Linked DNA regions of Homo sapiens. The protein of the gene in region 1 purifies or fractionates together with the protein of each later gene. This does not show direct contact. Each region holds a gene or a part of one and is shown in the gene's direction. Other genes may lie near its edges. The genes, in order: SLC7A10 and CA12.

The links.
Region 2: the proteins of SLC7A10 (region 1) and CA12 purify together in Homo sapiens (affinity purification with mass spectrometry; one large-scale study listed by BioGRID and IntAct). This does not show direct contact.

Annotation. Positions count from the first base shown.
Region 1 is NC_000019.10:33,208,750-33,212,561, reverse strand, and holds part of SLC7A10 (asc-type amino acid transporter 1), read left to right. Parts: coding exon 1-48; intron 49-116; coding exon 117-270; intron 271-1,024; coding exon 1,025-1,148; coding exon of another isoform or gene 1,149-1,233; coding exon 1,234-1,337; coding exon of another isoform or gene 1,338-1,663; coding exon 1,664-1,760; intron 1,761-1,945; coding exon 1,946-2,095; intron 2,096-3,076; coding exon 3,077-3,254; intron 3,255-3,540; coding exon 3,541-3,671; 3' UTR 3,672-3,812. UniProt on the Homo sapiens protein: Associates with SLC3A2/4F2hc to form a functional heterodimeric complex that translocates small neutral L- and D-amino acids across the plasma membrane. Preferentially mediates exchange transport, but can also operate via facilitated diffusion.
Region 2 is NC_000015.10:63,347,044-63,350,855, reverse strand, and holds part of CA12 (carbonic anhydrase 12 isoform 1 precursor), read left to right. Parts: intron 1-3,812. UniProt on the Homo sapiens protein: Reversible hydration of carbon dioxide.

The DNA of each region.
Region 1 (3,812 bases):
TGGCCTTGTCCCTCATCATCGGCGTGGGCCTTCTCCAGATCTTCCAAGGTAGGGCCGAGTCGGGGTAAGGGCCGGGCTGGGGAGATGGTGCTGACCCCCGACTTCTGGGCCTCCAGGACACTTCGAGGAGCTGAGGCCCAGCAATGCCTTTGCTTTCTGGATGACGCCCTCCGTGGGACACCTGGCCCTGGCCTTCCTCCAGGGCTCCTTCGCCTTCAGTGGCTGGAACTTCCTCAACTATGTCACCGAGGAGATGGTTGACGCCCGAAAGTGAGTGGGGCCCCCAACTGGGCCCTGGGAAGCAGCCAGGCCCTCTGGTGGGACAGGCAGCCTCTCCGCCCAGCCCCACTGCCACCCAAGGCTCGGGCTGGTCCTCGGTGGCCCACGCCTGTTGCCCTGCAAAAATGGCCCTGGGAAGAAAGCCGGGGGGCTTGCATTCTAGCCTGGCCCTGTTCTCTCTGGCTATGGACACGTCACAGCCCCTTGCAGGGCCTCAGAAAGGCTGAATATCATCATCCTGCTGTAAATAGATCCAGAGATTTGCATTTGGCCTAAAATTATGCATATACACACAATATGGTCCCTACAAATGAAGCCAATGACTGCGTCTGATGCTCGGCCAGGGATCTCGACAGTAAACCTTTGCAGCTGAGCGAGCTGGGACTGGAAAGTTCCAGGAAGACTCTGGGTCTGTGGACTGGGCTCTGGGGCCATTTTGGGGAATTTTCCAGGCTGATTTTGGCTGTATGCGATTTTATCTTTCTGCACAGACATCAGACCCTGTCCTCAGGATGTGATGGGGCCCCTCCCCCATCTCCCATCCTACCAGCCTGTGTCCAGGTGGGGGTGGGGCAGGGCAGACAACAGGGTCCCTGTGTCTCGGGCAGCAATGCTGCCCCCTTTCCTGCCCCAACATCCCCAGCAGACACAAGAGATGGAGACTATGAGCTGCTCTCGTGGCTGGGTCTCGGGGGTCCTGCACCCTCAGGAGCTGACGCTGACGCACTCCACTGCCTGTCACCAGGAACCTACCTCGCGCCATCTTCATCTCCATCCCACTGGTGACCTTCGTGTACACGTTCACCAACATTGCCTACTTCACGGCCATGTCCCCCCAGGAGCTGCTCTCCTCCAATGCGGTGGCTGTGGTGAGTGGGCCCCTGCTCGGTCCCTGGCTCCTGCCCAGGCCCCTGCCCCGGCCTTACACATGGCCTCTCTACTGTGCCCACCCAGACCTTCGGGGAGAAGCTGCTGGGCTACTTTTCTTGGGTCATGCCTGTCTCCGTGGCTCTGTCAACCTTCGGAGGGATCAATGGTTACCTGTTCACCTACTCCAGGTGACTGCACTGGGGAGACGTGGGCATGGGGAGGGAAGGCTGGGGTGCAGGTGTGCACCAGTCATGCCGTGGGCCAGAGGAAGGGACACCTGCCGGGGGAGGGGTCTGCCTGAAGCTGGGATGATGATCCCACACGGTAACAAGTGTCTGATCACAACTGGGAGGCAAAGAAAGCAAGAGGCAGGCAGGCTGGATGAGGGGGAGAACTGTCCAGTGGGGCTGCTGGGCCCGGAGCAGGAGGTCAGAGGCGACAGCTTAAGAGGGACATCAGGTCCAAAGCTGAGACCCAGGATGTGGCCAGTGCCCATATCTGTCCCCAACGCTAGGCTGTGCTTCTCTGGAGCCCGCGAGGGGCACCTGCCCAGCCTGCTGGCCATGATCCACGTCAGACACTGCACCCCCATCCCCGCCCTCCTCGTCTGTGTAAGTTGGGGGACCTGGGCCAGGCAGGGCGTGGAGGCAGGGCTACCCGGCAATGCAGGACCTTCCGGGTAATGGCAGGGGTGAGCCATTCCAGGGTGGGGGTTGGGGGTGGGGCCAGGGCTCATCCTGCAGGGGCGTCAGGAGGCAGGCTAGGGGCCAGCCGTCAGCCCCAGGTCCTCTCCCAGTGCGGGGCCACAGCCGTCATCATGCTCGTGGGCGACACGTACACGCTCATCAACTATGTGTCCTTCATCAACTACCTCTGCTACGGCGTCACCATCCTGGGCCTGCTGCTGCTGCGCTGGAGGCGGCCTGCACTCCACAGGCCCATCAAGGTGAGGCCCTGGGACAGCTGGCCCTGTGCCGGGTGCTGCCAGAGCCACCCCTGCATCCACAGTGGGCACCAGGGGCAGGTGGGATGGGAGGTGCCAGCTTTTGTGGAGTGTTGGGCCCTGCTCAGGGCTCTCTGTGCACTGAGGCAGCCATTCCTCATAGCAGCCCCATGAGGACAGAGCTTTGAATGCTCCCAGTGTACAGATGGCGAAAATGAGGCTCAGGACTGGGCACAGGGGCTCATGCCTATTCCAGCACTTTGGGAGGCCGAGGTGGGAGGATTGCTGGAGCCCAGGAGTTTGAGACCAGCCTGGGCAACATAACGAGACTTCCTCTCTGCAAAAAGTTAAAAATAAAAGGGTTAGCCTGGTGTGGTGGTGCGCACCTGTGGTCCCAGCTACTTGAGAGGCTGAAATGGGAGGATCGCTTGAGCCCGGGAGGTTGAGGCTGCAGTGAGCGGTGCTAGGGCCACCGTACTCCAACCTGGGTGACAGAGGGAGACCCTGTCTCAAAAAAAAAAAAAAATTAAAGAAAATGAGACTCAGGAACTGTTCAAGGTCACAAAGGCTGCCAGGATTTCATGAGCCCACACAAAAACAGAAGACCATAGCCTGAGCTAAAAGCAAAGCCCCCCATGTGTGTATAAATCCTTAAGTGGAGAAGTGCTCAGTGCCTGAAATGTGAAACACCAAAAAATCACTGACCTCCAGCCAAGTGCAAGCCTCAAGTCCACACGCAACCGCTGTGTGGAGCTCGGTGCCGCTGAGACTTTGAAAAATCCTCAGCAAAACTGGCCAACGGCCTGACCCATGAATTGGCCTCCAACACACTGGGCTGTCGCCAAGAGGGGGTGTAGTGGGTGCAATTGCCCTTCAGGCCTCAGCTCCCAGGGAAGGGAGGAAAATTCCCCAGACCCCCAGGGGTCGGGGGTACAGACAGCTGGAGGCCCTGCACCATCGGTGTTTCTGCTCCCCCTTCCCCAGGTGAACCTTCTCATCCCCGTGGCGTACTTGGTCTTCTGGGCCTTCCTGCTGGTCTTCAGCTTCATCTCAGAGCCTATGGTCTGTGGGGTCGGCGTCATCATCATCCTTACGGGGGTGCCCATTTTCTTTCTGGGAGTGTTCTGGAGAAGCAAACCAAAGTGTGTGCACAGACTCACAGGTGAGCCGGGCAGCTGCAGGTCACCCAGCACAGGGGGCCGGGGCCTGGAGACCAGACCTCCCTCTTAGAGGCTCACCCCAGAGCAGGGTGTCCTAGCAGCTGAGGTGGGAACACAGGGCCCAGCCGCCACCAAATGTCTCTTCCCAAGATGTACCCAAAGTTTCCAGAACCACGGGTACCGACGGAGCAACTCCCTGAAGACCCCTGCCCAAGGGGAGGTGTCCGGAGCTGGGGGTCACCCCTATCCCGAGAGGTCAGGCCCCAAGGTCCATCTGTCTGTCCTCAGAGTCCATGACACACTGGGGCCAGGAGCTGTGTTTCGTGGTCTACCCCCAGGACGCCCCCGAAGAGGAGGAGAATGGCCCCTGCCCACCCTCCCTGCTGCCTGCCACAGACAAGCCCTCGAAGCCACAATGAGATTTTTGTAGAGACTGAAGCAGTTGTTTCTGTTTACATGTTGTTTATTGAGGAGGTGTTTTGGCAAAAAAGTTTTGTTTTGTTTTTTTCTGGAAAAAAAAGAAAAAAGATACGACTCTCAGAAGCCTGTTTAAGGAAGCC
Region 2 (3,812 bases), on another chromosome or scaffold:
GCATAGATGAGGCAGGACTGTTTCTGAATTGTAAACTGTCCAAGCTGGGTGACATGGGGTTCATTCCACTCCTCTCTCTACATTGTATACATTTGAAATTTTCTGTAAAAACATTCTGGTCCTTGGATAATGCAGGTCCTACACCCTGGGCCTCAAAATTCCCAATCAGAAATCACGAGAGGCATTTTGAGCTGTGCCATGTTAATCTCTTGTTACCTTTCGAAACAGGAATTCTGACCACTTCTGTTTTGCCTAGAGCAGGAAAAACACATAGACAGGAAAGAAATAATGCCTTGGCTTTATTTAGAAAAACAAACTGTGAAAGACACGTGATCCTCCTGTATCACGATCATGGGAGGAGTCCAACCAACTGGAGAGGCGAAGTCAAAACTCAGAAGAGCAAAGGCAAAGTTTTAGCTGGAAATAAATGCTTCTTTTAGGAGAGTCACTCCCAGTGGAGGATTTCTGGCAGTGGAGCACTTGGCATGAGTGTGAAAGCTGACACTGAGTTGGAAAATGGTAGCCCAGGGTGTAGCGGCCAGCATAAGGCCAGCACTGTGCAGTCACATGTCACAGCTCAGGGAACAGAAAGGCCTGCTGTTGTCACCTCTGATATTGGTTGTCCCGGTGCCCACCCTCATGGCACCTCTATCTCTCACATGCCACAAAGACAGGAGGCTGCTCTGACAGTGTCCCCAGCTATGCAAGGCGGGGACACCCACTAGCCATTACATGCTGGGGGAGGGCCCTATGAACTTCCTTGGCAGGCCGTCTCCCAGGCTACAGGGCAGAAATCAGATTTCTTTTTCAATTAGTGCCCCCAAACAGAAACCATTTGCACACAGGTAAGCTAGAAAGCTAGGAGGGTACATTTTGAACCTGAGCAAGTGATCTCATTTTTCCTCCTCTTTTTTGAGGAGAAGAAATACATGAGGGAATTAAGGTGGGTGCACGTTCCCTGGGAAAGGAACAAGCATGAAACAGGTGTTGAGAGTTCAGCTTAGTAAACATGTGAGGGCCCACTCTGTGCCAGGCACTGTGGGAAGTGCAGCGATGGATGAGCCGTGGTCCTTGTCTTCAAGGACAGCGTGGGGAAGCCAGGAAATTCCAGGTGCACAAAATCTCCTGGATAAATACTGAAGGACACATAAGTCCTGTGACCCAAGCAAAGTAACTGTTACTTAGCCAAAGTCAAACTTCCGGCAAATCTCTTAAATCTCTATTTTTCACCCATAAAATGGTGCAATTCTGCCTTGCTTACCCCGTAAGGTTATAGAGTTATAAGGATCAAAGCTACTACAATATAATAACAATGAGGAGGAGGAGGAGGAGGCGAAGACAAGGCTTTCTTGACCTTGCTGACCTACAGACCTGTGACTGGTGCCCAAGGACGAACTCCGCTGTGGATGGCAGCCAGGACCAGGGCAGGTTCCTGATGCAGATGGCTGTCTGATCCCAGCCAGTCCTGGAGCACCGGTGCCCTGTGCCCTCATTCCCGAAGCTGGTTCCCCTGGGCACCTTGTCACATGCCCAGTAGCTGCCTTGACATGAGCAACCTTTCTGACTCATTCAAATTTGCCTGACAGATGGAGAAGGTGCTTAGTCCTAGTATTCTTAATAAATATCAGAGCTTAAGAGCCAGAAGGAACCTTCCAGAACATAGCTTCCACACACATCCCATCCCCACCACTACGCCCACCACCCCCACCATTTGCACGAAGGGCAATGGAGGCTCCAGCAGGGAACATAACCCACTGAAGTGTTGGGACAGCTGATGCTGGAATCTCATTCTCTGGACTCCCCTGGTCCAACATAGCTGCTTCTCTTTCCAAGACAGGTTTTGCCAACACCAACTCTACTGCCTTTAATATCCTTAGTCTTTCCTGCCCCCCAAATACCTTATTTGGTCCTAACTTCCAATAAAGCGTATTTAGAGCAAGAGAAAAAGGAAACATTCCCCAAGTCACATTTTCCCAAGCCCTCTGTTCTTTTTCACTCTTTGGGAAAATGTTTCCTAAATGCCCATGGGGGCACGTGACCCTACTTATAATATGGGTTCACAGAGACGAAGATGAGGGGTCCCTATCTTCACGAGGCTCTCGTTTAGCTATCAGTAAAATGCCCTCTTGATGAAACCTTTTTGAACCTCCACTGTGGGAAAAGAAAACCCTTCTAATCCAGTTCCCTTTAGTCATGTGTGCAAAGAGAAAGCTTCTCAATGATGCATCTCTTTACTTCCTGAGTTTTTTGCATTCATGCCTGGCTGGCAGCTTCCGCCCTGCTGGCTGTGGGCCCAGGCAGTATTGTGAGCACAGAAAAGGCTGGCAGCCTCACTTAGGGAGTCTTACCCTGTGCTGTGTCTCTTCCTGACCCTGGGGTTCTACATGAGGCCTCACGGTTGCTTCATTCTGCTCCCCGCTGCCCCTAAAGCATTCGGTTTGGCCCCCAGCTGAATAATTGTCTTACTCCAGTTTGGCCCTGGAGTGCCTGCTTTGATATCCTCCAGCCTCCCTCTTCCCTAGTCACCATCTTGGTGTAGTTGAGTTATTTTGAGGCCTTGAAAATAAGAATAGTAGAGCTCAGCGGAGACTCTGCCATGCCCAAGTGAGAAGACTGGTGTCCAGTGAAAGGTTGGACTGGAGATTCTGCAATTCCGTCATGCTGTAACATTTCTGAAAATGCATAGCCTAAGGTTGACAGCCTGAAAAATCAGTAGGGTTCCGATGTGTGTGTCCGGACCTAGAAGTAAGAACTAACTAAGCCTGGGACCAACGCCTCATAGCATTTGAAATGAACCTGGGTACCAAGTATCACTTCGGATTCTTCCCACTCTCAGATACGGTCCCCTAGTTAGAGAGCACGATGTAGGGGGTTGGGATTCTGTGGGGCCAATATAACATTTACACCCTTGTGAAACAGTGCAGGGGTCTACAGAAGAATTCCCAGAAGAGGTGGTGTTCCTTTCCCCTTTTCTCTATTTACCCACCTTCCTTGTGTTGAAATACTGATGAACGGACCCCCAGATGGCAAAGCTTGATCCCCAGCTCTGATAGAGCCCACAGGACACCCTGGGTCTACCCTAACGAGCCATGACATGCCAATTCTTTGCTTTTCTGGAGAAACCTTGGCCTGAAAGTCTGTTTAATTACCGTGGAGATAATCTTTTAAACATAGATTTACATTCTTTAAAGACTTTTTCCCTGTGGGAGTAGGAAAGTTCATCTGCACATAGCATGTTTATTTTCATTTCCAGGGGAGGAACTGCTATCTGGTAGTTAGCAAGAAGCTTGAGCCCTGGAGGAATTTCTTTTTTTAAAGTCTGTTCCTCTTCACTGATAGTGTGTCAATTATATTGTAATAATTAGTTTATAGTGTGGTCATATTTTTTTCCAGCTTAAACTCTGCACTTCACTCTGTGATTCCAGGCCTATAATTATTTAACATTTGTCAATCATCCCTATCAGATTGGGTTCTATAGTTACTCTAAATGTGGGTATCAAGAGTCAATGTCCTCAGGGGTTTCTCTTCAGGAAGGTCATACTTGCAAAGCCAGCAGCCACAAAGACCTATTTAGGTTGGTGCAAAAGCAGTTGTGGTTTTTGCCTGAAAGGAATGGCAAAAACCGCAATTATTTTTGCACCAAGATAATACTTGGCACTGTGGTCAGTAAGACACTAATTTTTCCCACCTGGGGTGGCCCCGCAGATTTGCTAAATTCTTCCCCGCTAGAATGCCAGCTTGGATGAGCAGGGGCTCTATTGTATTCAACCTGGCAGCCCCAAGACCCAGAGTAATTCCTGGCTCATAATAGG